Homo sapiens: one gene and its partners. Changing the gene in region 2 together with the main gene of any one other region gives a genetic interaction. Each region holds a gene or a part of one and is shown on either strand. Other genes may lie near its edges. The genes, in order: SLC33A1, CUL5, NPRL3, CTBP1, CAND1, SEC23B and RICTOR.

Evidence for each region.
Region 1: changes in CUL5 (region 2) and SLC33A1 together harm fitness more than expected from each alone (negative genetic interaction), as found in Homo sapiens cells (one large-scale study listed by BioGRID).
Region 3: changes in CUL5 (region 2) and NPRL3 together harm fitness more than expected from each alone (negative genetic interaction), as found in Homo sapiens cells (one large-scale study listed by BioGRID).
Region 4: changes in CUL5 (region 2) and CTBP1 together harm fitness less than expected from each alone (positive genetic interaction), as found in Homo sapiens cells (one large-scale study listed by BioGRID).
Region 5: changes in CUL5 (region 2) and CAND1 together harm fitness less than expected from each alone (positive genetic interaction), as found in Homo sapiens cells (one large-scale study listed by BioGRID).
Region 6: changes in CUL5 (region 2) and SEC23B together harm fitness more than expected from each alone (negative genetic interaction), as found in Homo sapiens cells (one large-scale study listed by BioGRID).
Region 7: changes in CUL5 (region 2) and RICTOR together harm fitness more than expected from each alone (negative genetic interaction), as found in Homo sapiens cells (one large-scale study listed by BioGRID).

The regions. Positions count from the first base shown.
Region 1 is NC_000003.12:155,833,549-155,837,981, reverse strand, and holds part of SLC33A1 (acetyl-coenzyme A transporter 1), read left to right. Parts: intron 1-3,940; coding exon 3,941-4,125; intron 4,126-4,396; coding exon 4,397-4,433. UniProt on the Homo sapiens protein: Acetyl-CoA transporter that mediates active acetyl-CoA import through the endoplasmic reticulum (ER) membrane into the ER lumen where specific ER-based acetyl-CoA:lysine acetyltransferases are responsible for the acetylation of ER-based protein substrates, such as BACE1.
Region 2 is NC_000011.10:108,102,358-108,105,972, forward strand, and holds part of CUL5 (cullin-5), read left to right. Parts: intron 1-1,832; coding exon 1,833-2,027; 3' UTR 2,028-3,615. UniProt on the Homo sapiens protein: Core component of multiple cullin-5-RING E3 ubiquitin-protein ligase complexes (ECS complexes, also named CRL5 complexes), which mediate the ubiquitination and subsequent proteasomal degradation of target proteins.
Region 3 is NC_000016.10:86,674-91,106, reverse strand, and holds part of NPRL3 (GATOR1 complex protein NPRL3), read left to right. Parts: intron 1-1,204; coding exon 1,205-1,394; intron 1,395-2,216; coding exon 2,217-2,409; intron 2,410-4,236; coding exon 4,237-4,402; 3' UTR 4,403-4,433. UniProt on the Homo sapiens protein: As a component of the GATOR1 complex functions as an inhibitor of the amino acid-sensing branch of the mTORC1 pathway.
Region 4 is NC_000004.12:1,214,629-1,219,061, reverse strand, and holds part of CTBP1 (C-terminal-binding protein 1), read left to right. Parts: intron 1-470; exon of another isoform or gene 471-2,856; coding exon 2,857-3,071; exon of another isoform or gene 3,072-3,103; intron 3,104-3,371; exon of another isoform or gene 3,372-3,516; intron 3,517-4,433. UniProt on the Homo sapiens protein: Corepressor targeting diverse transcription regulators such as GLIS2 or BCL6. Has dehydrogenase activity. Involved in controlling the equilibrium between tubular and stacked structures in the Golgi complex.
Region 5 is NC_000012.12:67,306,716-67,311,148, reverse strand, and holds part of CAND1 (cullin-associated NEDD8-dissociated protein 1), read right to left. Parts: intron 3,753-4,433; coding exon 3,657-3,752; intron 1,249-3,656; coding exon 1,079-1,248; intron 998-1,078; coding exon 833-997; intron 1-832. UniProt on the Homo sapiens protein: Key assembly factor of SCF (SKP1-CUL1-F-box protein) E3 ubiquitin ligase complexes that promotes the exchange of the substrate-recognition F-box subunit in SCF complexes, thereby playing a key role in the cellular repertoire of SCF complexes.
Region 6 is NC_000020.11:18,555,809-18,560,241, forward strand, and holds part of SEC23B (protein transport protein Sec23B), read left to right. Parts: intron 1-4,433. UniProt on the Homo sapiens protein: Component of the coat protein complex II (COPII) which promotes the formation of transport vesicles from the endoplasmic reticulum (ER).
Region 7 is NC_000005.10:38,955,644-38,960,076, reverse strand, and holds part of RICTOR (rapamycin-insensitive companion of mTOR), read left to right. Parts: intron 1-98; coding exon 99-298; intron 299-755; coding exon 756-882; intron 883-1,245; coding exon 1,246-1,410; intron 1,411-1,557; coding exon 1,558-1,634; intron 1,635-2,346; coding exon 2,347-2,425; intron 2,426-4,372; coding exon 4,373-4,433. UniProt on the Homo sapiens protein: Component of the mechanistic target of rapamycin complex 2 (mTORC2), which transduces signals from growth factors to pathways involved in proliferation, cytoskeletal organization, lipogenesis and anabolic output.

The DNA of each region.
Region 1 (4,433 bases), on a different chromosome or scaffold from region 2:
AATGTAATATGATTGCTGAATTGCTTTTCAAAAGGTTATACTAATTTATACTGTCTCCAGCAATATATAAGGAGGTACTTCAATTACAAAGTCTATAATACTGTTTTCTTCTTTTAAACTTCCCCCCTAATAACATATCTCCTAACTTTTAATACTACAGATTAATTTTCTTTCCTTTTGAATTATATATTAATGGACTATACAATATATATTTTTATGTTTGATGCATATGTTCTTTTGCTTAATATTATATTTGTGGAATTTATCCATATTTTTATTTATAGCAATAGTTTGTTTATCTCATTACTGTATAGTATTCCGTTGTATGGATATGCCACAATTTATCCATTCTATCAACAGATTTTTAGAGCTATTATGTGTAGTGTTTCTACAAACATTCACATACGTGACTTTTGGTGAAGATAGGTGCACATTTCTCATTGGTAAATATATAGGAATAGAATTGCTGGTTCATAGAAGATGCATAGTATTTTGTACTGCCAAATAGTTTTCCAAAGTGGTTGTTCCAATTTTCCCTACCACCAGCAGTGTAAGAGAGTTCTGATTTTAAGGAGTTTCACATCCTTGAAAACACATATATTATCTTTTTTTTTTTTTTTTTTTTTGAGACGGAGTCTCGCTCTGTCCCCCAGGCTGGAGTGCAGTGGCGCGATCTCGGCTCACTGCAAGCTCTGCCTCCTGGGTTCACACCATTCTCCTGCCTCAGCCTCCCAAGTAGCTGGGACTACAGGCACCCACCACCACGCCCAGCTAATTTTGTGTATTTTTAGTAGAGACGGGGTTTCACCTAGCCAGGATGGTCTCGATCTCCTGACCTTGTGATCCACCCACCTTGGCCTCCCAAAGTGCTAGGATTACAGGCGTGAGCCACTGCACCTGGTGTATATCATCTTTTTAATTTTAGCCTTTCTGGTGGTTGTGTAATGGCATCTTGTTATTGCCATAATTTGAATTTCCCTAATGACAAAAGAAATTGAGCATCTTTTCATGTGATTATTGACCATTTGAATATCCAAAGTTGCCCTTTTCTTTAAATTTGTAAAGTTGTTGTTTCTGTTTAGATTTCGTTGTTTGAGATGAGGTCTCTGTCACCTAGGCTGGAGTGCAGTGGCACCATCACAGCTCATTGCAGCCCTGACCTCCTGGGCTCAAGTGATCCTCCAACCTCAGTCACCCAAGTACAGGCATGTGCCACCACCACGCCCAGTAAATTAAAAAAAATATTTTGTAGAAAAGAGTTCTTACTATGATGTCCAGACTGGTCTTGAGCTTCTGGGCTGAAGCAATCCTCCCGCCTCATCCTCCCAAAGTGCTGTGCTTACAGGCATGAGCCACTGTGCCAGACCAAACTTTTTAAAATATATTTTGAATTTGAGTCTTTTATTAGATATGTGTATTACAAATATCTCCTACTATATAACTTTTAAGACTTTTTTAACATTTTAAGATTAAACATTAAAGTCAGTTTGTATGTCTTATTTTTACAAAGGGAATGAGTAAAATGTAAGTGAAATTATTTTCTGGACTTAAGTGAAATATATGTTACCTTTAATTTTTTTTATGGTGAAATTTTCTTTGGCTCTATTCCAAGAAGTTACCGTGTATACTATTTATAATTTTTCTTTCTTTCTTTTTTTCTTTCTTTCCTTTTTTTTTTTTTTTTTTTTTTTTTTTTTTTTTGACAGAGTCTCACTCTGTCACCAGGCTGGAGTGCAGTGGCGCGATCTTGGCTCACTGCAACTTCCACCTCCCAGGTTCAAGCGATTCTGCTGCCTCAGCCTCCTGAGTAGCTGGGACTACAGGCGTATACCACCACACCTGGCTAGTTTTTGTATTTTTAGTGGAGATGGGGTTTCACCATGTTGGCCAGGATGGTCTCAAATCTCCTGACCTCGTGATCCACCCACCTTGGCCTCCCAAAGTGCTGGAATTACAGGCATGAGCCACCGCGTCTGGCCTTATAATTTCTTTAAAAAAAAAAAAATTGTGTGATATTGAAGTGGCCTTGTGGTCTAGGGTAGTACCTGAGGTTTGCTGTCTCACAGCCACAGAGATCAAGGACGTGGACACACAAAGAGTGAGGTTAACAGCAGAAGTTTAGTAGGTGAGAGAGAGAATAGCTCTGTGCTACAGAGAGGTGTCCTGGAAAAATGTGTTGCCAGATCTGTGGTGAAATGCAAGGGGTTTTTTAGATGAGCTAGTGGGGAGGCAGTGTCTGTTTTAAATAGGGCATGAAAAACCGGTAAGGTCCAGGTGCACCATTTATATAGGGCATGAATTTCTGGCAGCCCCCACCCTAATTTTTTATCATGCAGGCAGGTTCTCTGCCTGAGCTGCACCATGTTGCCCATTTTTTTACTGTACACATGCTAACAAAAAAGAGAAGGTGGAGCTTTCATGGTGGACATGCCTGGCTCCCAGGTAGCCCTTTTCTGTTGGTTCAGCTGCTGGCATTCCCCCGTGCAAGCTTCCAGCTTGCTTATCTATGTTTGCAACTCAAGTTTTTCAGGCTGCTCTTCGTTAGAAAAGAAATGATTTTGGGGGCCGCTTTTTGTTAGAAGGGAAGCTCTGCCGAGGTCTCTTTTGCCCTCACTATCTGCCTAAATAATTTCTTTCTGCCTACTGTATCGATATAACTTCACACTTCTTGAAAATGTATTAGTAGAACTCCTTTATATCCTTTATCCAGATTATCTAATTATTAACGTTTAGCTACACTTTCCTTATTCTGTAGATGTTCTCTTTCTATGTATATCCATTACATATGTCTTCTGAAATACTTTAGAGTAATTTGTACACATTATGCACTTTTATCCATAAGTACCTTAAGTATGTATTTCCTAAGAACAAGTTTTCTGCTTACAAAACCACAACTCAATATTGGGAAATTTTAAATTGATATAATATTATTGTCTAATTATAGTCCATATCCAAATTTTACACAATAACAGTCCTTATAACTTTAATTTTTTTCTTGTTGGGGATCTAATCTAGGATCACACATTGCATTCAGTTGGTATGGCCTTTCATTGTCCTTAATATCCTTGACATTTTTGAAGAATACAGGCCAATTATGCTGTAGAATGGGCTTCTAGTTACATTTCTCTCATGTTTCTTCTTGTTTGGGTTGAGGTTATTCAGGTATATAAGACAGGAAGATCAAAGAAGTAATGTTTTGATGTCTGCAGGGAATTATACTGAAAGCCATATCATGTCTCTTTATCCCTTTAACTGCTGTTTTTAACTTTAATTGCTTTGCTAATCTATTGTAAAAGTACTATTTTTTCTTTTGTAATTAAAAACTGACTCATGGGGAGATACTTTGAGGCTATCTAAATAATCTTAATTTAATTCTTACTCTTTTTTGTGCTGTTTTAAAGAATTAATCTAACTATACTTTATCCCTTTCATTTTATTCAATCTCTCAGATACGTTTTCCCAGAATTACTTTTGAAACATTAGATGAACTTAGGAAATTTTATTATGGTCAGTCAGAAATCATTAAAAATGTATATATATATTGGCAGTTATGCTTCATTTTAACCAGATTGATTTGGGTCAATTAAAGGCTTAAGTTCTTTTAAACCTAAAACTTTCAAATTGGTAAATTTGGATTTTTGACCCCGTTTACTATAACACATTGGACTTTTTGAAGTGGAAATTTAGTTGTATTTATAGCCATCTACCATCCCTACCAGTACTGAATTTTCAGTTGTTTTCACTTAATATTATTAGAAAACCATAAGGCAAAATGTACCTCGTATAACTTGACTGTTGTACCAGGTATAATAATATGATGCTCACTTGTAACTGTCATGGGTCAGTAATAAAATTGAGGTTCTTGAAGAACTTACATATGCATGGAGGAAAATATTTCATAAGTCACGAATTAAAATACTTTTTTGTTTTTATATTGCAGATTGGTTTTTCAGCAGCAGATGCTGTAACAGGACTGAAATTGGTAGAAGAGGGAGTACCCAAAGAACATTTAGCCTTATTGGCAGTTCCAATGGTTCCTTTGCAGATAATACTGCCTCTGATTATCAGCAAATACACTGCAGGTCCCCAGCCATTAAACACATTTTACAAAGCCATGCCCTACAGGTAAAAATGAAATAAAACCTTACTAAATAAGAAAGGGTAAAATGAGGAACATTCATCAATACCACTAATATCTGAGCGTAGAATTATATATATGGAAAAAGATTTGAAAAGCATCTTTTTTCAATATTATTTATATGCACTTTTATCTTTTTAACCTCCTAACAGGTTTAGATACAGCTTCTTTCATATGGTAGGCACACGGATTTCTGTTTTTGTTGTTGTTGTTATTTAAGCTAAAATGGAAGTCAACTCAATGTTTCTTTCTCTATAGATTATTGCTTGGGTTAGAATATGCCCTACTGGTTTGG
Region 2 (3,615 bases):
ACTCTGTCACCCAGGCTGGAGTGCAGTGGTACAATCTCAGCTCACTGCAACCTCTGCCTTTCAGGCTCAAGTGATCCTCCTGACTCAGCCCCCTGCGTAGCTGGGACCACAGGCGCGTGCCACCATACCCAGCTAATTTGTTTTTGTATATTTTGTAGAGATGGGGTTTCGCCATGTTGCCTAGGCTGGTCTCAAACTCCACGACTCAAACGATCCACCCACCTCAACCTCCCAAATTGCTGGGATTGCAGGCATGAGCCACCCTCCCTGGCTGGTTATCATATCTATATAGGGGAAGTTGAAGGAGTTTTTCTCTTACTGAATAGTGCCTGACTCCCAAGTCTGTTGATTTGCAGCAAAATTATATTTTTAAACGTTAAAAGCAAATGTTACTTCTTTTTCTATTTTGACATTTCTTTTACAACAAACTCTAATCTGTGCTAAGATAGATATATGCCTTTTGTTTTGGAGACAGGGTCTCAGGCTGTGGTGCAGTGGTGTGATCTCAGCTTACTGCAACCTCCACCTCCCAGGCTCAAGCAATCCTCTTTCTTCAGCCTCCTGAATAGCGGGGACCACAGACACACGCCACCATGCCTGGCTAATTTTTGTATTTTTTATAGAGATGGGGTTTCGCCATGTTGCCCAGGCTGTTCTCAAACTCCTGGACTCAAGCAATCCACCCACATCACCCTCCCAAAGTGCTAAGATTACACACATGAGCCACCACACCCGGCATATACATGCCTTTTGTTGGGTAAAGAGAGAGCTGGTACTGGAAAAGGTAAAAGAGAAAAGAATATTTAATGATTTTCTGATAACTCTTATTGTAAACTTAACAGTAATTAAGGAAATCATCAAGAAAAATTTTGATAAAATGACCTAGATGAAAAAGATTTATTTCTTTAGAAACTTAAAAGTGACTGGGCATCGTGGCTTACACCTGTAATCCTAGCACTTTGGGAGACCAGGGCAGGGGAGTATTTGAGTCTGGGGGTTCAAGACCAACCTGGACAACATAGCAAAACCTTGTGTCTGTATTTAAAGAGAAGAAGGGGAAAAAAAAAACCTTAAAAACATTTAATTGAGTCAATATAAACTGAAGATAATATTTGTAGCAAATATAATTAATTAATCTGGTAAATATATAAAGAGTACTACTTAATGACTTTTAAAACAGACCCCACCTGACCTGTACTGCTATACAAAGAAATAACTGAATACAAGGGAAAAATTTGGTGTAAGGGGTTTGTTATATTTTAATTAATGTTTAACATGATACCAGGTTATATACACATTGTTTTCACAGGTAAGATAACTTTTAAGAATGTGAATGGCATGGGAAAAAAGGAATTGAAGGAAATAATATTAAAACATTAGGTGTAGTTTTCTTTCAGCAGAGAAGCAGAGGTAATTTTGCTTTTCCTTATTTTTCAAAATCTCTATAGTCAGATTTTTTTTAAATACATACTTTAAGTTCTGGGATACATATGCAGAATGTGCAGGTTTGTTACATGGGTATACACGTGTCATGGTCATTTGCTGCACCCATCAACCCGTCATCTACATGAGGTGTTTCTCCTAATGCTTATCCCTCCCCTATCCCCCCACCCCAATAAGCAGATTCTCTTTTATGGGGCATGAGAAAACAAAAGATGTTTTTATTTGTTAAGTAAAAGATACTAGTCTCAACATTAATCCCCTAGTGATTATTATTCATTTGGGTAGATGTTGGATAGAGGATGAATATGCATAAAAAGTCATTTTTCAGTTTGTTGTACTTAAAATAATTTCGTATATTAATGCGCTTTTATTTTTATTTTTTCTTTTAGGAAGCTATCATACAAATAATGAAAATGAGAAAGAAAATTAGTAATGCTCAGCTGCAGACTGAATTAGTAGAAATTTTGAAAAACATGTTCTTGCCACAAAAGAAAATGATAAAAGAGCAAATAGAGTGGCTAATAGAGCACAAATACATCAGAAGAGATGAATCTGATATCAACACTTTCATATATATGGCATAATTTTGAATATCATGGACAATATTTAGAACCCAAATTTTGGAGTGCTTGGGCAGAAAGTTGTAAAGTTTGTGCTGGAGAAAGGTTTATTTGGACTTTGATTACATAAATATTAAAATCTCTGCCTTACCTTACAAAAACAACTATATTTTGCCAATCACATTAGTTAGCATGATGGCATTCCCTTCATGTTGCACACTCTTTGACAGCATGCTGTTTTGTGGAGAAACTTGCATTCATGAAGAGCCCATTATCAACTTTTAAAAGTGAATTTGATTTGTACCCACCAGGAGAAATACAGTTGGGAAGGGTGAGGGTGGGGTTCTTGTTGCTTTTTTCTCTTTTTTCCTCTCTTAAAAAATGTACTTGCACAAGGAAGGATCTTCAGATATTCATGCACTGAAAAATGCTGTTATCTTTTGTTTTTAAAAAATGCAATTAAAACTAGAAATAGCACTCTTGGTTTCTTTTGATGAAAAGAGTGAGCTGGTCAATGCAACATTGGGAAACGGCAGATGTAGGTGAGAAGTTAAGTATTTAATAGTATCAAATTGTTCAAACATTGCTCAGTATAATAACTGGATTTTAATGGTGACCTAAAAATGGTATTAAATATTTTCAACTTTCAAATGTTGGTTTTCTTTAAGCAGGAGACTGCTATTTTAGTTGTTGTTAAATGATGAGGAGTTTTTTTTTTTTTAAATATGGCTGGAAAGCTTGTTTTGAAAAATGAAGCTTATATTAATTGTTGCTTCAATAGTTTAAAAAATTTATGGAGATAGGTAGGTCATTATGATTGCAGAGCCAAAATAGCAAAACAAACATATTAAGTGTGTTTACTAAACATATTGTGTGTTTACTAACACACTTAATGTTTATATACCTAATATTTATTATGCCATATCTGAATTTATTAAAAACAACACAGAAATCTCCTGCTCTGATATAGTTATGTAACTGATCTCTTAATCTGTAGCATAGAAGTATTTTGGTATTTTAAGGTCTCATGATTAGGGATTTGTAGCCTCAGGTTTGAATCAGTCACCTAGGGGTAAGAGAAAAACCACAACATAAGACCTGAAAAACAGAAGCAAAATTGTTGCACTCTTAATACGAGCAGTAAACTTGCCAAATATATGTACATATATATTTATATATTTTAAAAATAAACATTTTTTAAATCGTCAGAAGGCAACATTTACCATGTTCCTTTCAGTCTATCCAAAGTAGCAACTTAACTAGTTGCTGGCAACTGAATACCCAGAGTAGTGGAAATTTTAGGACTTGAGGACGTGAACAACTTGAAAGAGAAAATTGATTCCCCTTGAGGAAAGAATGGCTCAACGTGGATTTTTATTCATTGTGGTGCACGTTTCAAATTTTCTTGCAAATTATTTTATATCTTATTTGATGTTAAGTAATATTTTTAAAGTATGGTTTTTGAAGATAGTAGGAAATGGAGTACAGAAAGGCATACAGTATTATGTTACAGTGGAGTGCTTTCAAGAGCATTTCGTAGGATCTGTCCCCATCCGAAGAGGCTTTGTGAACTGCCTGCTGAATGGAAGGAAAGCAACTTTAAAACATTTAG
Region 3 (4,433 bases), on a different chromosome or scaffold from region 2:
TACGCCCAGCTTTTTTTTTATTGTTTTGATATAGAAACTTGCTTTGTTGTCCAGGCTGAAGTACAGTGGCGTGATCTTGGCTCACTGCAACCTCCGCCTCCCAGGTTCAAGTGATTCTCCTGCCTCAGCCTCCCAAGTAGCTGGGATTACAGGTGTGTGCCACCACACCCGGCTAATTTTTGTATCTTTAGTAGAGATGAGGTTTCACTGTGTTGGCAAGGCTGGTCTCGAACTCCTGAGCTCAAGTGATCCACCCGCGTCTGTTTTATTTCTTAAATTCATGTGAAGTCTGGATATCTTGCAGTCCTTTTGACCAAGTCTTCTTACTTGCCTGGGATATATCCCCCATTCCCATCCCCAGTTCCCCAGCCCCCTCCCAGGAGGTGACCCTGGCCAGCAGCTCCTTGTTGACCCTCCCAGAGATGAGTAGACAGATGTGTATCTGAGGACACTGATGTGTCTCACACTCCTTACTGTTCAACGCCTGAGTCTGGGCAGTACTTTCTCATGGGGACTGGACTCTACCTGGCACAAGGCTCCTCACTGCTCCTCACTGCCAGCCCCACCTGCTAACCCAGAGACATTGGAGGGCCTGGCCAGGACGTGCCTTCTCACGGTGGGGGTGGGGGTGGGGTGCTCCACCCCCAAGCCCAGGGTCACTGGCCTCAGCTTTCTTGTGGATCCACTCTTGTGCTCAGGGTGGACTTTCAGGTAGATCCAAGGAGAGGACTTTCTGCTCTCAGGGTACCTGCCCACAGCCTCTTTTTAAACAGTGTCTGGGCTTGTGTGGAGGTGGACTTGCTGGCTGGGTCCAACTCCAGGGCCAGTGGGCCAAAGAAGAGAGGAGGCAGAGGGGCAGCTGCAGCAGCACAGGGTGGGGGGTTTGCTCAGCGAAGCAGTCACAGGGGCCTCCACGTCTCAGGTCCTGCTCCTCAGCCAGATGCTGGGTGGCCCCGGTGTGTGGTGGGAGCCTGTGCAGGTGTGATCCAGATGTTCCCCTGGCCCCTCTCCCTTCCCAGGAGGGTGAGCGGGCCTTGCAGAGCTGGCTGGCAGCTGGGGGCTCCCTTTCTGAGAAGAGGGCCTTTCTGCCTGTGCGTCAGCACAGGGAGCGTGCTGTGGCCATGTCTAGGGCCATGGCTCCCTGATCACCCAGGAGGAAGTTGGAGTGGGGAGGGGGACCAGCCTCACCTGCTGCCACCCGCAGACCCAGCTCATCCAGATGGTGGTGTGGATGCTGCAGCGCCGGCTTCTCATCCAGCTGCACACCTATGTCTGCCTGATGGCCTCACCCAGCGAGGAGGAGCCCCGTCCGCGAGAGGACGACGTCCCCTTCACTGCCCGGGTCGGCGGTCGCAGCCTCAGCACGCCCAACGCCCTCAGCTTTGGCTCCCCAAGTAGGACCCCCAGGGCACCGCTGTGGTAGTCAGGGGAGACGCTTGGGGGTGGCATCCAGGAGGCTCAACGTGGGTGGTGCTGTGAGTGATGAGGGGCCTCCACACAGCTGCACACGCACATGCACGTGCCTCGTGTCCCCCGTGGAGACACCTCTCCTGTCTCCTAGCACCACCGTGACTCTGAGGTGGCAGCTCTGTCTCCGGGCTCTTCAGCAGGCTTGCTAGAATTAGGGGCAGCTCCCAGCCCAGCAAATCAGTGCTGGAATCTCTGCCCCAGCCTGGGAGCAGAGCAGGATCTCATACCACTACCAGGACAGCTGACACCTCTGCGCCCCAGAAGAGCCGTCATGGCCAGTGTGGCTTGAGGGCAGCAGCCTGTTGCCAGGTCCCAGGTCCCCGGTCCCCAGGCTTGGGGAAGGAAGGGGGTGGAAGACTTTGAAAGTCCCCCCTTGGCTGAGGTCTGGCTGTAGGCTTCATGCTTCATGTGAGGACCCCACCTGCCCAGGGTGCTTTGTCCTCCATCCTGGGTGAGGGACAGGATGCCCAGGCCCACCTTGGGGTGTTTGTGGGGCACACATCGCACCTCTGTTCAGGTCCCTTGAGGTTGCCCCCAGAGGGGAGGCTACCCGTTTCCCAAGTCAGCCGTATGAGGGGCGTGTCACACCCAGGAGGTGGGGCAGCAGCGAATGCTTGCAGGCAGATGTACCCTAACCCTTGTAGGAGTTAGGGGTGTCATTGGAGGCTGGCTGCTGGCTCTGCCCTCGCTGTTCCCCTGGGTGTCCTGGAATTCCACTTGGTCACCCTGACCCATGTCCCCCACAGCCAGCAGCGATGACATGACCCTCACCAGCCCCAGCATGGACAACTCCAGCGCAGAGCTACTTCCCAGCGGGGACTCGCCACTGAACCAGAGGATGACGGAGAACCTGCTGGCCAGCCTGTCGGAGCATGAACGCGCAGCCATCCTCAGTGTACCCGCAGCCCAGAACCCTGAGGACCTCCGCATGTTTGCCAGGTGGGTGTAGGTTGACCCGTTGGGACTGGGGCCAGTTGCAGGGTCAGGGCAGAAAGTGGATAGGGACGTACGCAACAGAACCACCAAATCCACTGAGAACAGATGGGGCCCTGTTCGAGATGGAGTCTCTGCATTCAGGTGTGTAGGGGCAGGTGCCACTGCCCAGGCCTGAGGGTTCGGCTTGTCACCAAGACGCCGGGCCATGGGCCTGGCATGCCTATTTTTCGGACTCTTCTCTCTCCAGTACTTCTTAGATGTTCCTTTTCCCTTGAGAGGCAGTGCCAAGTTCTTTTTTTTTTTTTTTTTTTTTGAGACGGAGTCTCGCTCTGTCACCCAGGCCGGACTGCGGACTGCAGTGGCGCAATCTCGGCTCACTGCAAGCTCCGCTTCCCGGGTTCACGCCATTCTCCTGCCTCAGCCTCCTGAGTAGCTGGGACTACAGGCGCCCGCCACCACGCCCGGCTAATTTAAGTGCCAAGTTCTCACCCTCATGGGACTTGGCAGGGGTTTGCCCAGGACTGTAAGCCCTGCGGGCATCCAGGGTCCCCCATGTTAAAGGTGATGTGGCTCAGTGGTCTCTGTCAGCCCCACCCTGACTTGGGGGACAGTGCAGGGGCATAGTTTCCCGGGAGTGGTCGGGTTGTCAGGGACTGAGTTTCCGGTTGAGAACCACACTCGGCCCTCGAGAGAACCACTTGCAACTCTTCTGAGCAGCTGGTCCAGGTCTCACCTGCATCCTAGCCTCCTCTGTGCCAGCCTGAGTTGCAGAAAGCACCCTAAAGCAGTGACCTTCCAAATGATGGTGACATTAAAAAAAAAAAAAAAAAAAGTCAGGCGCGGTGGCTCATGCCTGTAATCCCAGCACTTTGGGAGGCTGAGGTGGGTGGATCACGAGGTCAGGAGATCGAGATCATCCTGGCTAACATGGTGAAACCCCGTCTCTACTAAAAAATACAAAAAATTAGCTGGGTGTGGTGGCGGGCGCCTGTAGTCCCAGCTACTGGGGAGGCTGAGGCAGGAGAATGGCCTGAAGGCGGGAGGCGGAGCTTGGCGGGAGGAGGAGAATGGCGGGAAGGCGGGAGTTGCAGTGAGCCCAGATCGCGCCACTGCACCTCCAGCCTGGGCAGCAGAGCGAGACTCCGTCTCAAAAAAAAAAAAGCAGGCTGGGCACAGTGGCTCACGGTTATAATCTCAGCACTTTGGGAGGCTGAGGTGGGTGGATCACCTGAGTTCAGGAGTTCGAGACCAGCCTGGCCAACATATAATGAAACCCTGTCTCTACTAAAAAAGAGAGAAATTAGCCAGGTGTGGTAGCGCACTCCTGTAGTCCCAGCTTACCTGGGAAGCTGACGCAGGAGAATCGCTTGAATCTGGGAGGCGGGAGGTTGCAGTGAGCTGAGATCGAGCCACTGCAATCTAGCCTGGGTGACTGAGTGAGACTCCGTCTCTCAAAAAAAGGAAAAAAAAAAGCAGTGACCATTTGGCTCCAGAGCTACGTGGGACTCACTGTAGCACGAAAAAGAAGCCACCAGCAGAACCCTGGTCCCAACATCAGGACGCAGGCTTGGGCACCTCTGGGTTTGAACAGCCGTCTGCCGTCCTGAACCCACTCCGCCCACCTGGTGGTCAGCGGGACCGTGGTGGGCATGGGGTCCAGGAGGCCTGCCCACCCTTGTTGGGGGGCTGTGGTGGCTGCCTCCCTGGCCTTCACCACCAGCTCTGTTCAGGCCTGTGGGCAGCTCAGAGCTGATTCCCAGCAGTGGCTCTTCAGCAGAGGCCTCTGGGGGCTGGTGTCAGGTTGGGCTCACACCCACCCATCCCTTCCAGGCTCCTTCACTACTTCCGCGGCCGCCACCACCTGGAGGAGATTATGTACAACGAGAACACGCGGCGCTCCCAGCTGCTCATGCTGTTTGACAAGTTCCGCAGCGTGCTGGTGGTGACCACCCACGAGGACCCTGTCATTGCCGTCTTCCAGGCTCTGCTCCCCTGAGCCCAGGCGGAGGGCGGAAGGCTGCTGGGGT
Region 4 (4,433 bases), on a different chromosome or scaffold from region 2:
CGGCGCCTGACTTCTGTCTTTTATGTTTAAAGTGTGTCTGTTATTAATAGTATAGAGTTAGTTCCTCTTTCTTTTTTCAGTCTGACAGTCTTTGCCTCTTGAGTGTTCAGTTCATTTATTTTTAGTGTAATTGCTGATGATTTGGATTTCGGTGTCATCTGGCTACGTGTTTTCTGTTCATCCTTGTTTTTCCTTTCTGGCCTTCTTTTATATTAATCAGGTGTTAAATGATTCCTTGCATCTGTTGTTGCTTTTTAACCTATACTCTGCTTAGTGATCGTGTTTAGTTTTACTTTAGAGATTAGGATACGCCTTCATAACTCACTGCCACCCAGCATAACCTGTGAAGACTCGTCCAGGGCGGCCAGAGGCCCGCGGTGGCTCCTCTCACCCTCGGGCCGATTTTCCACGTCTATTATGCAGAAAACCGTACAAGAAGCTATTAGTCATGAGTCTGTCAAGGAATTTTTCAGTAATTTTTCTTTTGAATATCAACCGACACATCCACCCTTTCTGCCTTGTTTACGCCCCCCGATTCTGGCTGTCCTCGGGCGTCACGTTCCTGTAGCCTAAAGACTGTCTTAGAAATGTGGCTCACCAGTGACCGATTCCTTTTGCTTTTCTTTGTCCGAAAATGTGTTGCCTTTTTTTTTTTTGTGGAAGGTAGTCTCGCTCTGTCGCCCAGTCTGGAGTGCAGTGGCGCGATCTCGGCTCACTGCAGCCTCTGCTTCCCAGGTTCACGCCATTCTCCTGCCTCAGCCTCCCGAGTAGCTTGGACTACAGGCGCCCGCCACCACGTCCGGCTAATTTTTGTATTTTTAGTAGAGACGGGGTTTCACCATGTTGGCCAGGCTGGTCTCGAACTCCTGACCTTGTGATCCGCCCACCTCAGCCTCCCAGAGTGCTGGGATTACAGGCGTCAGCCACCAAGGCCTGTTCTTTAAAATTTATTTTTTAAATTCTTTTCTCTCTGCTTCTGTTTGGATGCCATCTGCTGACTTTGAGCCCCTCCCTTCAAGCTCCCGATCCTTTTCTTGCAGTTAGCTTTGTCCAGGGAGTTCCGTTTCAGAGGGATGTTTTCGTTCTGGAATTTCTATGTGGTTCTTTATAGAGTTACCATTCATCTTCCGGAAGCCTCCATTTTTCTGCTGTTTACATCCACACTTGTTGTCATCTCTGAGCATGTTTATAGTAGTTATTAAGAGGTTTTGCTGGCTGATTCCAGCCTCGGTCATCTGTGCGTCTGTCCGCTTCCAGTGTTTTGTTCTAATTAGAAACTACATCCTCCTGTCTCTTCACCTGCATCATCATAATTTCTTATCCTAAGCCAGACATCATGTGGAAGAGAATGGCAGAGACAGAAGTGAAGAATGGTCTCGCCCCGAACAGCCGCTGCTCTCCCGTGTCAGGCGTGGCCGGCGCCGGCCCGCGGCTTTAGCTGGTTTTCGCCACCGGCAGCCCGACTTCCGGGGCTTTGTGTTGTGCGCAGTGGGAAACAGCGTGTCGTCCGCCTTCTGCGCTGTGGGAGACGCCTTTCTCTGTGTCTGCCTGTGTTCTCTTCCTCCCCATTTGGTGGGATCCCTGGCAGGGGGCGTTGACAGACGGGCTGTTCTGCACCTGGGGAGCTGCCCGGGTACTCCGGCCGTGGCTGCAACCCTCAGAACTGCTGCTCCCACCTCCGCCTGCCGAGCCCTCCTCCCTCCTGCAGCAGCCTCGTCCCTGGGGATGGAAGGAGCCACCATGTTCCTTCTCGTAGAACAGGCGCCTCCCTTTCTAGGATGTAGTGCGTTTAGACGGTCCTCAGCTCTTCTGACTGGCCTCCCAGCCTCCCCCAGTCCTCTTCCCAGAGTGACTGGGGGTCCCCTGGGCGTTTGGGCCACGTCCGGCCACCCTGTGTGCCTGGCGGTCTGGTCTCCTTGGCCCTCAGGCCGCCGCGGGCCCCTCGCACGTGTTGTTCCAGCTCTCTGGCTCCCTTCCTGTCCCCTTATGTCTCCAGCAAGCTTGGTCTTCTCAGGGAGGCCTGCCCTGGCTGCCGCCTTTGAAACTGCGCCCACTTCCCACCCGCCCCGGCGCTCAACCTGCTTCCTTCCTGTGTAGCGGTTCCCTCTGAGGCAATGCAGGAGACACCACGTTCGCGGGCTTGGGGTCCTGTGTCCTTTGCAGCCATGCTGTTGGCTCACAGTGGGCACGAGCACTCTGCAGACCCTTCCCCGAGGAGGAGCCGGCCCCAGCCAGACACGGTGGCTCAAGCTCCACGGCTCCTGTGCTGGGACCCGTGCCAGCCTTGGACTGCTGGGGTGGGGGCAGGCACGTCTGCCTGGGATGGCTTTCTCTGCCGCTCCACTCGAAGGGGTCAGGACCTGAGCCCAGCGGGGCCTCCCTGGTCTGGAAGTTTCCCTCCTGCCCCCTTTGCCGTCTCCACGTAGTGGTGGCTGGAATTGAGATGCCGGAAACATTGATGGGTGGATCGAAAGGCCAGCGGAGGGGCCTGGGCACGGAGGACATGTGTTGGGTGGGTGGAGACCCACTGACCAGTCCGTTTGACACTGAGTGGTTCATGTCACGTCCTGTGGACAGGCTGCAGGGGAGTGGTGTGGCTGGCAGCTGGTGTGGGCCGAGGGGCTAGTGTACCCTTTCCACCCCTGTGCATCTCCTCCGCCTTGGCAGTGGGCGCGTTGGAGCGGACGTGGAGCGCTCGTGTGGAGCGTGCGTGGGCACCTTGGCTTGACCACAGCTGGTGTCATCCTTGGCAGATGGTCAAACTGAGGCACAGAGGCCACTCCGACCCTGGCTTTCGGGGCCGGCCTCCCGGCCACGGGTGAGCAAGGGTCTCACACTGTGTCTTGACGCCACCAGGTCGCGTGGGGCAGGCAGTGGCGCTGCGGGCCAAGGCCTTCGGCTTCAACGTGCTCTTCTACGACCCTTACTTGTCGGATGGCGTGGAGCGGGCGCTGGGGCTGCAGCGTGTCAGCACCCTGCAGGACCTGCTCTTCCACAGCGACTGCGTGACCCTGCACTGCGGCCTCAACGAGCACAACCACCACCTCATCAACGACTTCACCGTCAAGCAGGTGCGTGGAGCCGGGGACACAGGACTCTACTTCTGCGGGGCAGGTACAGGTGGGGGTGTCAGGCAGGTCCCTCCCAGCAGCCATCTGCACCTGGGCAAGACCCTGCCTTCAGCGAGCCACATGGCGGCGGCTGCCAGCCCTGCTGGGGGAAGCCCTGTCTGCCCAGACAGCGTTTTCTGTGTTCTGAGTTCTACTCAGGACATCTAAAATACTCTCTGGACAAGACAGAACCTCATACCTTTGAACACCAAATTCCCCTGAAGCCCTTGCTGTTGTCACAGTGGGGACAGATGCAGCTACCTGGGGGCGTTGGGTCGGCCCTTGTGACTTCCGTGCTGCCAGGTTCAGGTTTCACATCTGCAGCTGGAACGGGCTGTGCTCAGGTCGGCCTCTGACATCTGCAGCTGGAAAGGGCTGTGCTCAGGTCGGCCTCTGACATCTGCAGCTGGAACGGGCTGTGCTCAGGTCGGCCTCTGCCTCAGCACAGCTCGCAGTGCAGCCTCAGCCCTGCGTTCCCCTTGAGTGGGTGGAGCTGGGGATGGCTGCCTCCCGCTGGCTCCAGGCCCTTCAGGGAGTCATCGTGTGTGCACAGTGATGTGTATGTGTGTGGGCAAGTGTGCGTGGGTGCATGTGTCTGCATGTTTGTATGAGCTTGTATGTATGTGCATGTGTGTACACACGTGTCAGAGGCCACCCGCCCACTCTAGCTGCCCCAGCAGCCTGTAGCCACAAGGAGGATGAGGCCAGGTTCCCGCTGCCCCTTCCTTTGTTCACAGAGTCAGTGGGTTTGGAGCCTTCTAGGGGACAGGGTGTGGCACGTGGATGCTGGTCAGAGCCCTGCCGTCCCTGAGGACCTTGGGTGTGAGGCTTTAATGGGCAGCAGTGCACCAAAGAAAAGCCACCGTGACCTGCCCAGCTGTCAGCCAAGCACCGTGGCTGGGTGGACTTCTTGGAATGAAATGGGGGGGCTGCAGGAAAGCCCTGGCCACGAAGCCGAGGGAGAGCCACCCGCAGGGCTTTTTGCAAAAGTGCATGAAAAGCGAGCCTGTTCCGAAGACGGAGGCTCTGCTGCAGGCCCCGCTGGGGTTGGAGTCAAAGACCACGCCTCAGAACAGACGGCCCTGGGCTTTGCCGTCCCAGGGAGTCCCACCTCGTGGGCTGAGGCCCTGCGTGGGGGAGGCTGGGCTGGAGGGGACCCAGAAAAGGGGTACCACAGGGGGACCAAGCCAGGAGCCCCCGCCCAGTCCTCAGCTCAGGGCTTGGGCAGGAGGGTGGAGCTCTCTAGGAGCTGTGGGGCCGTGCAGGTCCATACAGGGCAGATCCTCAGCCAGCCTGTCAGGGCCGCGGTGCAGCACGCCCGAG
Region 5 (4,433 bases), on a different chromosome or scaffold from region 2:
TTGAGAGGCTCAGGTCACTACCACACATGGAAACCTAAGAGTAGGAGTTCGGGTAGTATGGCTCAATTACTGCTGAGTTACCACTTTTGTCCTGCTTGGCCAAAAGCCCTAAATGGAAGAGTAGATGAAAAAGACACAATGCATATATTTTTCATTTTTCAAATCACCCTTTTACTGTTCACATTTTAAATGGAGACGAACACACAGGAAAACAAAGAACACTTATATGCAAAATTCATTATCCAAACATAAGACGCAGTATGATTTCTCTCAAGTAGCTTCTACAGATTGTTTTGTATATCTGAAAAGTTCCATGTCCTATAACAAAATTCTTGATATTAAACACAGTATATTATATTGAAAAACAAAAATTCCTCATTCAGGTAAATGATACAGTTACAATTCAGACTAGCCCCAAAGGTAGCTCAGGAGACTTAATCAAGACAATGCTAAGAAAACCCTCCATGGGTAGCAACTATGGTCCAATGTTAAGACAGGCCAAAAAGTTACAGATTTATACTTTAAACAGCAAAATCTGTCGGGACTTTTTTGAGGGAAAGGATCTAGGGACTATTCACTAAGCAAGTGGGCACACAGCATTTTGCATCCACTGCCACTTCCTCCTCCAATAAAAAGGGCTCTGGATCTTTCTTACACGTCAACTGGTGTTACACTGCCTATTACTTTTGCACTTTATAGTTTACAATATGCTTATCAAAATCTTCACAGACAACCTGATTTTTCTCAGACACATGAGTAAATTACAAGGGTGAAAGTTGCTCTAGCAAAGTCTTCTTCTAAAACATTGTATAAATAGGCACAAACATCTTACCTTAATATCATAATGGTCCTTCAAACCATCTTCAACATGATTTAGAAATTCAAAGATATCAAGTCTATCAAGACAACTGTCTAGAAGTGTGTACATACACTCAAATGCTGCCTTTCTAATATCCAGACCATCATCAACCGTATGTTTAAATGGACCCATTTCTACCTGTTAAAGCAAAAAAGAACGTGTGGATATACAATACTTAAGTCAAAGACAAGCTCAAATAAACAGTGTGATCTAACTTACCTCTCTTATAAGCTCCTTTCTAACTTTTGTTTCATTGTAAAGATGTGGAAGAACAGTATCCAATAGATCCCTTATTAATGATGGCTTGTTATGTGCTGCTGAATTAAATGTGACCAAGGCTACTCTTCTCACATTCAAATCTGGGTCTTCCAAAGTTTTTAGGAAATCACCTGAAATATTACAAGAAAAGCAACAGACAGACATGATAAACTTAAAATACAATATACATTATATTTTCTCTAAGTTGATATAATTTATTTTTGCTGGTGTCATTGTTATTTCTTCAGTGACGGTCAGGGAAGAACCTGATGAAACACTAAGTGAACCATAACGTTTCTTTCAGCAGCAACGCAACTATCATTTCTGAAGGTGAATATATTTTCAATTGATAATCCACTCTCAGCACTTATAATGCAGAGGGTATGGAAGAAGAGTCCATAAAGTTCCTCAATATCACTTCTATAGATATAAGATATGACAGAGACAGAGCTAAAAAGACTAATCACATGCTTGATTCTCCTTGTAGTTCACTAAAAGCAGCAACAAAAATATTTTTAAACTAAGTTCAAAATAAGAATAAAAAAATGAAGTGAAGACAGACCCACTGCTTAATAAAGATGGAGTACTATTAGCAGATATACAATTAATCAAATGAAAGAGAAACGTGCCTCCAAAAGCCCTACTTTATTTCTGTCTTCAGTAAGAAATACACGAATTCACAGGAAAATAATATAAAAGGAGAAAATTGAAAGCTAACATAGGACAAAAGCCAGAGAAGCCATCTAGGTATTTTAAAAGTCTGCTTACTCTTGCAAATGTGGGCAAGAAAGTATAATGCAAAGATCTTTGGAGTCACATGGTTGGTGGTTCAAATCATTTTACTTGTTAAATGTATGATTTTGTGCAAGTTACTTTAGGCAAGAACCTCAGTTTCTCAGTCAATAAAATGAGGATTATAAACCTTTTAGAGCTATACTGAGCAGAATAAACGGCGCATATATTGTTGAAGACAATGTCTAGTACACACTAAGTATTCACATGTAGCTATTATTCATCATTATATGATCTCAACTCTATCATCAGCAATCTTTTAGAATACACAGGGAAATGTAGGAGAGATAAAAGACTTGAATGCCAACTTGAAAAACCTGCAATTTGAAAATATGGGAGGAAAGAGAGACTTCAGATACTGTAGATTGGGAAACCCAATGTTGATATCCAAGAAAGTTCCAGCACTGATTTAAAAAAAAAAGTCTGAGAAACAGCGTGGTTTCAAAAACAATATAAATGTACCAAACTAATCTCCCCTCCCCTTTATTTGCATACTAAACTGGTAGATTAGAAGAGTAATTACAATAGAGTATATATCCGCTTTCAGTAAAGCATCTAAAATATTGCTATTATGGACAAAATGGTGTCATGAACTAGCAATTTCAATTTTTAAAAAGTTTCCCAGGTGGTTCTGATGTTCAAATAGTCATGAATACTTAACTAGATCATAATTCAATTAGAATGCTAACTACCTGGCTGAGTAACTGTATCAACAATGCATACTGGTTGACTGCTGTCAACATGGAAAGATATTTCTAGAGATATGGCATGGGCCTCTTCCTCTGTCCTATTTTGCATAATACCAATGTCCTCAATAAACATATCAAAGCAGAAAATGTGTGGGGGAAATGCCAATAAGTTGTTTCTCATATAGACTTTAAATAATTTCTAGGCCCTAGCAATAGAACCCATTTGTGCCTGTGCTTTCCTTATTCTGAATTGGCAATCCCTTTCTATGCAGTTCAAATTTTATATTGTATTTTTTTTCTTTCTGGCACACTGAAGAATGGCACAAAGCTACAAAGCTTCTTTGCCAAATCCCTCAATCCTCCCTGATGGTTATCTCCATTATCCTGTCCTCAAGAAAGCAACAAACTAAATTCTGAGGTGTTTTTGGCTATTATCAAACTCTAGGAAAACCAATGATAAAAACAAAATGCAAGGAGGTTATAAAATCAGAAATAATCCCAAAAGCTAATTCTTGTCTTCACAGAAATAGAGAAGCCCTAGTTTTTCTTGGGTTATCTCCTCTTAGTTCTTCTGGGAATTAGCTCTCCCCCCCTTTATTTTTTATTCTTAGGTTATTTTGACCTTAAATATGGAAATCTCCATAGATCTCCTTGGGTGTTAGAAGTAATAATTGAAATTTGAGGCCTTAATAGCTCAAGCAAGACTCATTTAAATCTAGGGAGAAACTTCAGACTGGCCATATAAATCTAGTATCTTTTTGCTTTATCCACTAAAGCTATCTTAGGTCACCCCAAAAATATGGCTATCAAATATGTAGTTGACTCTAAAGACATGCTGGTATATTATAACTTCATTTATGTGCAAAATCATCTAGGAATAATTACAAACAATACAGGCAAATGCAATTTGTTAAAAGTTGTAAGATCATATCAATTTTCTTTTAAACAATTATTTTATAAGCATTTTAATTCCTCGATATTTCTAGTTACTAAGTTCAAGAGTTTCTTGAGAATTCTAAAGTCCAAAAATCAGTATGTTTATCTTTGTTTCCACTTACCTATGCAGTTCTTTAACAGTGGATCAATAGGTTGTGGATGGTCAGAAATTGTAAATTTCACAGCCGTAACCACTGAGCTTCGGGCATATGATGAGCCTAGTTAAAAATAAATTGCAAGTCTATTGGTATGTAGTCCACTAAAACTCACGGACATCATTTTTAAACCACTCCAAATAACACCAGTGTCTTCAATGCCTTAGAATTCTCCTTGGCCAAGAAGGGTATTTCTTATTGCACACATGAATCCAAAGGAGCAAAATTAACTTACTTATGAGCACAAAATATAATCCCATTAGATTTCAAAGAAACAATTCCTTCTGGGAAGGAGGGACTTGAAGCAGCAGTGGACGATCTCGCCCTCACAAAATAGAACTAGCTAAATCCAAAACCGCTTAAAAATCTTCAAATTTTTTACTAAAACAGAAAGCAATGTCTAAGAATGAATGGCTATTACTGCTATTAATATTACTACCTTTTACTTGTTCTAATGGGGATGACACTGGTAAATCTGAAAACTCTTCCAGAATCTTCCATTTGAAAAAAGTACTGTCACCAATTATACTTATTGTAATTAGTATCAACAAGCTCTTCAGATTATGTTAATTCATTAGATACATCTTTTCCACATTTTAACACAATATAGTAACATTAAAATGTAGTTATCATGAGGAATTAGAACAGATTTAACCATTATCTAATTACCACACTATCCTTTAAAACAACAAAATGTCATTTGAATATCACTCCATACTACGAAAGACAGTTTTTCTTCATCAC
Region 6 (4,433 bases), on a different chromosome or scaffold from region 2:
ATTGAGATTTTTAAGGTCAAGATGTGCAGCATTTCCATCACCACACTTATGCACTTTATTTCTATTATTGTTACATTGTAATATATAATGAAATAATTGTACAACTCACCATAATGTAGAATCAGTGGGAGCCCTGAGCTTGTTTTCCTGCAACTAGATGGTCCCAGCTGGGGGTGACGGGAGACGGTGACAGATCATCAGGCATTAGATTCTCATGAGGAGCATGCAACCTAGATCCCTCACATGCGTTGTTCACAATAGGGTTTGCACTCCTATTAGAATCTAATACTGCTACTGATCTGATGGGAGGTGGAGCTCAGGTGGTAATGCACGTGATGGGGGAGCAGCTGTAAATACAAATGAAGCTTCACTTACTTACCTGCCACTCACCTGGTGTGTGGCCTGGTTCCTAACAGGCCAAGGACTGGTACTATCCGTGGCCTGCAGTTGGGGACCCCTGATTTAAAGTGTATGGGAGGGTATGCATAGGTTATATGCAAATGCTACACCATTTTGTATTAGGGACTTGAGCATTTGTGGATTTGGGGATCCACAGGAGGTCCTAAAACCATTCCCCCACAGATACTGAGGGATGACTGTATATAGAAATACAATTGACTTTGGTATGTTTATCTTGTATTCTGTGACCTTCCTGAGTCGCTTACTACTCTTAGGAGTTTTTTTGTAAACTTCTCAGAAATTTCTACTTAGACAATCATGTCATCTGCAAGCCGGGGACAGTTTTATTTCTTCCTTTTCAATCTGAATAACTTTTACTTTATTTTCTCAAAGAATCAGCTCTTCATTTCATTGACTTTATTATCTTTTTATTTTCAATTTCATTGATTGCTGCTCTAGTCATTGTTATTTCCTCTCTCCTGTTTGCAGTAGGTTTTTAAAAACTCTTGGCTGGGTGCGGTGGCTCACGCCTGTAATCCCAGCACTTTGGGAGGCCAAGGTAGGCAGAACACGAGGTCAGGAGTTCGAGACCAGCCTAGCCAACACGGTGAAACCCCCGTCTCTACCAAAAATACAAAAATTAGCTGGTGTGGTGGCATGCGCCTGTAGTCCCAGCTACTTGGGTGGCTGAGGCAGGAGAATTGCCTGAACCCAGGAGGCGGAGGTTGCAGTAAGCTGAGATCACGCCACTGCACTCCAGCCTGGGCAACAGAGCAAGACGCTATCTTGAAAAACAAAAAGAAGTGAATTTATTATAGACAGCTTATAGTTGGGTCATGGTTTTTAATGCACTCTGCTGAGCTCTCTTACTTGGTATATTTAGACCATTTATATATAATGTAATTAATGATATGTTAGGGCTTAAGTGTGCCATTTTATTTTTTGTTTTCTGCTTTTCTTTTTTCATCTTACGTACTTTTTTCCTGCCTTCCCATGAGTTATTTGAACATGTTTTAGGATTCCCTTCTGACTTGTTTGTAATGTTTTTGAGTGTATCTCCTTATTTAGCTTTTTAAGTGGTTGCTCCTAAGTGCCCTAGGTTTTTTTATTTTAATTGAGATGAGGTCTTGCTATGTTGCCTAGGCTGGTCCTAAACTCCTGAGGTCAAGCGATCCTCCCACCTCAGCCTCCCAAAGTGCTGGGATTATAGGCATGAGCCACCACACCTGGCCAGGCCCTAGGTATTACATCATATATGCATAACTTATCACAGTCTACTGGTGTTCAAGCGAAGTCTAGAGACCTTACCTCCCTTTTCAACACTTTACTCTCCTCCATCGGTAATATAATTATGTTAAATATTTCCTCTGCATACATTTAGTATCACATCAGACAGTGTTATAATTTTTGTTTCAAGCATCAAACATAATTGATAAGTCTTAAAAGAAAAACCTATTATATTTCTCTACATGGTTGCTTTTATTGTTTTCTTTCTTTTTAGAGATCTTTTAGCCATTCTTTTTTTCTTTTTTCTTTTCTTTTTTTTTTTTTTTTGTTTTTTTGAGATGGAGTTTTGCACTTGTTGCCCAGGCTGGAGTGCAATGGTGTGATCTCAGCTCACCGCAACCTCCGCCTCCAGGTTCAAGCAATTCTCCTGCCTCAGCCTCCCGAGTAGCTGGGATTACAGGCATGCACCACCACGCCTGACTAATTTTGTATTTTTAGTAGAGACAGGGTTTCTCCATGTTGGTCAGGCTGGTCTCGAACTCCTGACCTCAGGTGATCCGCCCGCCTCAGCCTCTGAAAGTGCTGGGATTACAGGCATGAGCCACCGCGCCTGGCCTACTTTTAACCATTCTTTTAGCATAGGTCTTCTGGTGATAGATTTTTAGTTTTCTTTTATTTGAGAATGTCTTGACGTCCCTTTCATTTCTGAAGAATATTTTCTCTGCATATAGGATTCTGACTAACAGCCCTTTTCTTTAAGCAGTTGAAAAATATTGTGCTGCTTCCTCTGGCCTTTATGGTTTCTTATGAAAAGTTCACTGTCAGTCTCATTGTTTTCCCCTGTAGAGAAGGTGTCATTTTCCTCTGGCTGCTTCCAGTAGTCTTTTTCTGTTGTTAGTTTTCAGGGTGGATGGGCAGGGGCAGAGAAGAAAGTGTAATTATGACATGTCTTGGCATGGATTTCTGTGGGTTTATCCTGTTTTGATTTACTCAGCTTTTTGCTTCTGTAGGTTTCTATCTCTTGCCAAATAGGAAAGTTTTCAGTCCTTATTTCTTTGAATGCCTTTTCACCTGCTCTCTTTTCTTTCTTTCTTGACATCCAGTGACATGAATGTTAGATCTTTTGCAGTACCCCAGGTACTACATTTCCATGTATTTTCTTTCTTTTGTTCATTTGGGTAACTTCTATTGTTTTGTCTTCCAATGTATTGATTCTTTTTTCTGTTCTCTTTCTGCATTGAACCTATGCACTGCGCTTTTTGTTTGTCACTGTATTTTTCAGTTACAAAATTTCCTTTTGGTTCTCCGTGACTTCCACTTCTTTCCTGGGACCTTGTTGTTTCTTTGCTGAGGCTTCCTATTTTTTCATTTGTTTCAAGTGTGTTTGTAATTGCTCATGAAGCATTTTTATCATGGCTGTTTTAAAATCTTTGTCAGGTGATTCTAACATTGTTGTCAACTTAGTGTTAACACCTGTCACTTGTCTTTTTTAATTCAGGTGGAGGTCTTGGTAATCACTTTGTGTAAGTGATTTTTTTATTGAAACTTGGACACTTGAGTGTTTGTATGAGACCCTGGATCTTATTTAAACCTGCTACTTTTCGCTGATTTTTTCTTACACTACTCTGACAGGGAAGGTGGTTGGTGGGGGGGGTGTCGGGGGCACTGGTGGGCTCCATTACTGCCAGGTGGAGAAGTCCAGGTTTTCCACTGGCCTCTGTTGACACCTCGGGGTGTCTAGTGATTTCTTGTTACTGCTTAGTGGGAATGAGAGTTCCAGCTCCCCCATAGCCTCCAGTGAGACCGCTGTGGAGATGGCCTTGTTACACTTGGGTGATGGTGAAAGTCCTGACCCTCCTCCAGGCCTCTGAGGCCACCCCAGTAGGCAGGCGGAGGGACATATATTTTGCCAGGTTGCGGTGGAAGTCCAGGCTCCCCAAATGGCCTCTACTGACACCACAGGGGTAGGAAAATTTTTTTACTTGGCCATTGGGGATGAACTTCCTGGTTCCATACTTAGCCTTCTCTGGCACCATCTTGGTGGGAGTATTAGGGTGCCTTGTTACTGCCTTGTGAGGGTAGAAATTGTAGCTGCCCACCCAGCCTTTGCTGGTTCAGGTGGGTCAGGGCCACAGTTTTTCCTCTCATTTTTGCCCGGAGTACAGTGGTTATTATCTAAGATTGTTCTGTCTTGCTAGGCTGCTTTAGTCCTTTGGCTAGAGAAAGTGGGTGTTTTTTGTTGTTTTGTTTTGTTTGAGTCTGTGCTCAATGACAATTTGCCAGCTTCCTCAGCTCCAAATTCAGAGTATATGAGGCATAAGAAAGCCCAAGGAACTCACTGCTGTGCATCCTTGGGTCCCAAGGTCTTTAGTTTTTCTGTCTTCTCTCCACCTTTAAAAGTCTTCTTATGTTTGGTTTACATAAGATGCCCGAAGTTTTCAGTTGTACTTAGTGGGAGGAATAGAGAAAAGTATATATTCTATTCCTTCCTCGAAATCCTCTGAAAACATTTTGATCATGCTTACACTTTTCTAATTATAACAGTATGGTTTCATTTTAGAAAATTTGAATATGTTTTAAAAAATAAGAAAATTTAAATTACCTAGAATCATTATTTAAAGAGTTAACTATTTCCAGCTTTTTTCTACGTAAAGTGTATTATTGTGTGTGTGTGTATATATATATATATTTTTAATTTCTTTACAAAATTGGAATCTTACTACAAATTGAGGTTTCTATTCAATTTTTCCCATAACATTAATAAAATTATAAGCTTTTTCTGATATTTGAAATATCCATCTGTTCAG
Region 7 (4,433 bases), on a different chromosome or scaffold from region 2:
CATCATTATTAGTAAGTTTTTGTACTTGATTGAAGTTGATTTTCTAATTACAGATTTTGAATGCTTTTCTCACAATATCACAATGTATTTACTTTTAGGATGGGCAAGGCTACTTAGAAGATCTAGTAAAGGATATTGTTCAGTGGCTCAATGCTTCATCTGGAATGAAACCCGAAAGAAGTCTTCAAAATAATGGTTTATTGACCACCCTTAGTCAACACTACTTTTTATTTATTGGAACACTTTCTTGCCACCCTCATGGAGTTAAAATGCTGGAAAAATGCAGTGTATTTCAGTGGTGAGCATTCCCAGATTTTGTTGCAATATATACATGAACTTTATTTTTAATGTAGTTAGATATGGTATGCTTTTTATTCTGTGTACATGTGTTTGGTTAAGTTTTATTTTAAATTAGCATTATCTTTGCTTTAATATTCTTTTTAAAATTGTTGTTATTAAATGCTTTCTTTCCAAAAAGCTTGTTTATATTAGGAATTTTAAAAATATACGTTGAATTGACTTCATGCTCTTCCCACTCCAGCATTCAAAATAGTAACTATGTATGATGATTGATGTGTTCATTGATTGTGGTAATCTTCACAATGTATGTGTATATCAAATCAAGTTATACACTTTGAATAATACAATTTTTATTTGTCATTTATACTTCAGTAAAGCTGGAAAAAATATTTGTTTAATTAATGTATCAATATAGTAATTTCTTTTAACCATTCTTATTTTTTTTTTCTTTTAAGTCTCCTTAATCTTTGCTCCTTGAAAAACCAAGATCACTTGCTAAAACTTACTGTTTCTAGCTTGGACTATAGCAGAGATGGATTGGCTAGAGTCATCCTTTCCAAAATTTTAACTGCAGCTACTGATGTGAGTATAACATAGCCAGTAAAACTATATTTATAACCAATTAATTCACTACTTTATGAATTTTGGGCTAAGTAAAATTAAGTTCTAAGAATATGATATGGAAATTGAGTTTACTTTAAAATTTTAGTTTCTCCAAGGAACTGCATATAGTACTCAGATTTTTGTATCGGGGGAAGAAGCTGCTAGATAGAAAGGGAAGTATTCTATTTCACAAGAACCAAAAAAGTATTCATATCAAGGGCTAGACCACCAATTCCAGGCATTCTTCCCTTTTCAAGTAGCAGGACTATCCCAAAATAAAATCAAATAGGCTATTTATGCTGAAGTTTTTTTTTTTTTTAATGTATTCATTTATCCTTATAGGCCTGCAGACTCTATGCAACAAAACATTTAAGGGTATTATTGAGAGCTAATGTTGAATTCTTTAATAATTGGGGAATTGAGTTGTTAGTGACCCAGCTACATGATAAAAACAAAACGATTTCCTCTGAAGCTCTTGATATCCTCGATGAAGCATGTGAAGACAAGGTAAAGGTTCATTTTTTATAATTTAATACTTAAATTTTTTTGAAATACTCATTTGACAATTATGTAAAAGTATATAATAGGCATTTTGGAACTAAAAATTTTGCTATTTTTGTGCAATTATAAAAAAATAATGATAATCTCTTTTAGGCCAATCTTCATGCTCTCATTCAGATGAAACCAGCGTTATCCCACCTTGGAGACAAGGGTTTGCTTCTCCTGCTGAGGTAAATTTTAAGTAAATTTTCTGTTATGTTTTTTTGTTGTGTTCTTTGGCAGTGTATATTAAAGATAGATTCAAATCCAAATGGGAAGTACGCTGAAGAGTTTACCTTTTAATATTGAAACATTGTCTTTTCATTATTTTGGGTTTTTCTTTTTTTTTAATTTTTTTGGTCTGTTCATACTTTTCATGACATTTTCCTTTTTTTTATTGAGACGGCCTCGCTTTGTCATCCAGGCCAGAGTGCAATGGTCCAATGTTGGCTCGATGCAACCACTGCCTCCCAAGTTCAAGTGATTCTCCTGCCTCAGCCTCCCAAGTAGCTGGGACTAAAGGCGCACACCACCACGCCCAGCTAATTTTTTGTATTTTTAGTAGAGTTGGAGTTTCACCATGTTGGCCAGGCTGGTCTTGAACTCTTGACCAGGTGATCCACTCACCTTGGCCTCCCACAGTGCTGGAATTACAGGCGTGAGCCCCCGTGCCTGGCTGACATTTTCTTTATTGTGATTGGGTTCGCGTGTTGTTGCAAAGATTGTGAAAATTTATTTGTAATTGAAGTTATAATAAATTATAGTTGACCTTTTAGTTTTAGGAACGAACTATTCCTAAAGTCTTTTAGCTCCTTATACTTTTTTAAATTTTAGTTATTTTAGCTTCTTAAGATACGTTTTTGCCAGACTCAATGTTAAACTATTGCTTGTTTTAATTTGCAGATTTCTCTCCATTCCAAAAGGATTTTCCTATCTGAATGAAAGAGGTTATGTAGCAAAACAATTGGAAAAGTGGCACAGGGTAACTTCTTATTTGAATAAAGTTGAATTTGTGTGTTTTTATCTTCTGAAATTGATTTGTGAATTTAGAGGATGGTTTTTTTATATCAGTGTTTTGAAATTAATAAGGTTAAATATTTAAACATCAATATCAAGTTGAATCCTAAATTCTGCATAATTGCTAGTATTTATAGTTATACATTTTTTTAAACTACAGTTATTTCTTTCATTCTGAACTGTTGACTGTATTCGTTCTATTGAAATTTGACTCTCAACTCATTTGATTTTATAATCTAATTTTTGGCCCTGTTTATCATTTCTTTCATTCTTCGGTCCCTTAATATGGCCTACAACTTTGCATGAGCCCTTTAAGCTAAAACCAAAATAATTTTTTTAAATGAAGGGAGATTGAAATCCCAAGGAGATATAATCATTTAGTTAAACTTTACTTTAGGATACTACTTTACCTAAATCTGAGAATGAACTTCTTGCTGTCATAGGGAAACCTGCTAAGAAGGGAGTAGTTTGAAGATATGAAACAACTTTTCTAGCTTTTCTTTAGCTGGTGATTGCTGTGGCTTCATTATTTTGTTTGAAGTATTATAAGTCATCGAAGCATCTTGGAAACCCATGGTCAAAATGATCTTTACCGATATAAATGATTTTTAGATTTTTCATCATTTCAGATCAGTTATCCTGTTTTCTCTTTTTTGTTAACATAGTTACACATTCTTTTATAGTGTCTATATTGAACCATATTTCATAAGAGATACTCCTTAAATGGACTAAAACTTCCAAGCATACAACTTAAGGCATGAAGTCTTTTAGTATTTGATGAATTGTAGAACTGAGACAAGATGTGATAGGTTTGTTTCCTAGAAGATATTTAAATCATCATAATAAAATTTATTATACAAATCATAGTATTAGAAAATTGCTTAGAATATTGGTGCAGTGCTTGAAAATAGCATAAAATATAAGAGCTATAACAAAGTTACATGCAAGGTATAAGGGAACACAGAGGAGAGATTAATGATTCTGCCTTAGGGATTATCAAAAGAAATGTTGAATAGGAGCCGTAGATGTGATACTTGAAATGGTCTTGAGGAGTAAGTAGGCAAATAAATTAGAAGAAGGGTATCCACGGAAGAAGGAGCAGAATAAAGCTGTATAGATCATTGGAACATTATAGACTTATGAAGAAAGTCATATTCCAATGTAGTTGGAACTAAGGTAAGTGTGGAGTGGCAAGATGAGGCTGGAATGGTAAATTAAAGCTAGATTGTAAAAGGCCTCGTAAGCCATATTATATCATCCTAAGGGATTTCAATTGTATATATAGTGGGGAATCCTTAACAGCTTTTAAAGAGTGATCAGAGTTGTGCTTTAGTAATCTGACAGGTTGCAGTGAAGAGGAGGAATTTTGATCATTGAAGGTAAAGTCTAGAAATATTGACACAAGTTTAGAAACAAGAATTGATGAGTGCCTGAACTTCACTGGTAGTTAGGTTGATTAGATGAGGACGCATTTTCTGGGTATTTTCAAAATAAGATGGACAGAATTTGTGGGCTGATTGGATACAGTAAATAAGAGGTCCAACTTGGCTCATAAGGTTTCTAATTTAATGACAATATATAATGGATCACTATTAAGAGATCACATTTATAAAAAGTGATTCAAGATTAGGCTAATGAATTTTCAATATGTTGAACTGGCATTGTCTGTGCAGTAACCACGTGATGGCTTGAAAATGTGGATCTGGAGCTCAGATTTGTGAGGAAAATGGCAGATATGGGGGTCATTAGTATATAGTACTAGTTGAAACCTGAGCCAAAAGCTTATGGATATGATAGAACATTTGCATTCATAATACCTTGATCTGTCTACCCTTTGCTAAGTATCTGACATATTTTAAATTTAGTGACTCATTGTGATACTATGTGCAATTAAAACAATATTATCCTCTAGGAATACAACTCCAAATATGTTGACTTGATTGAGGAACAACTCAATGAAGCACTTACTACTT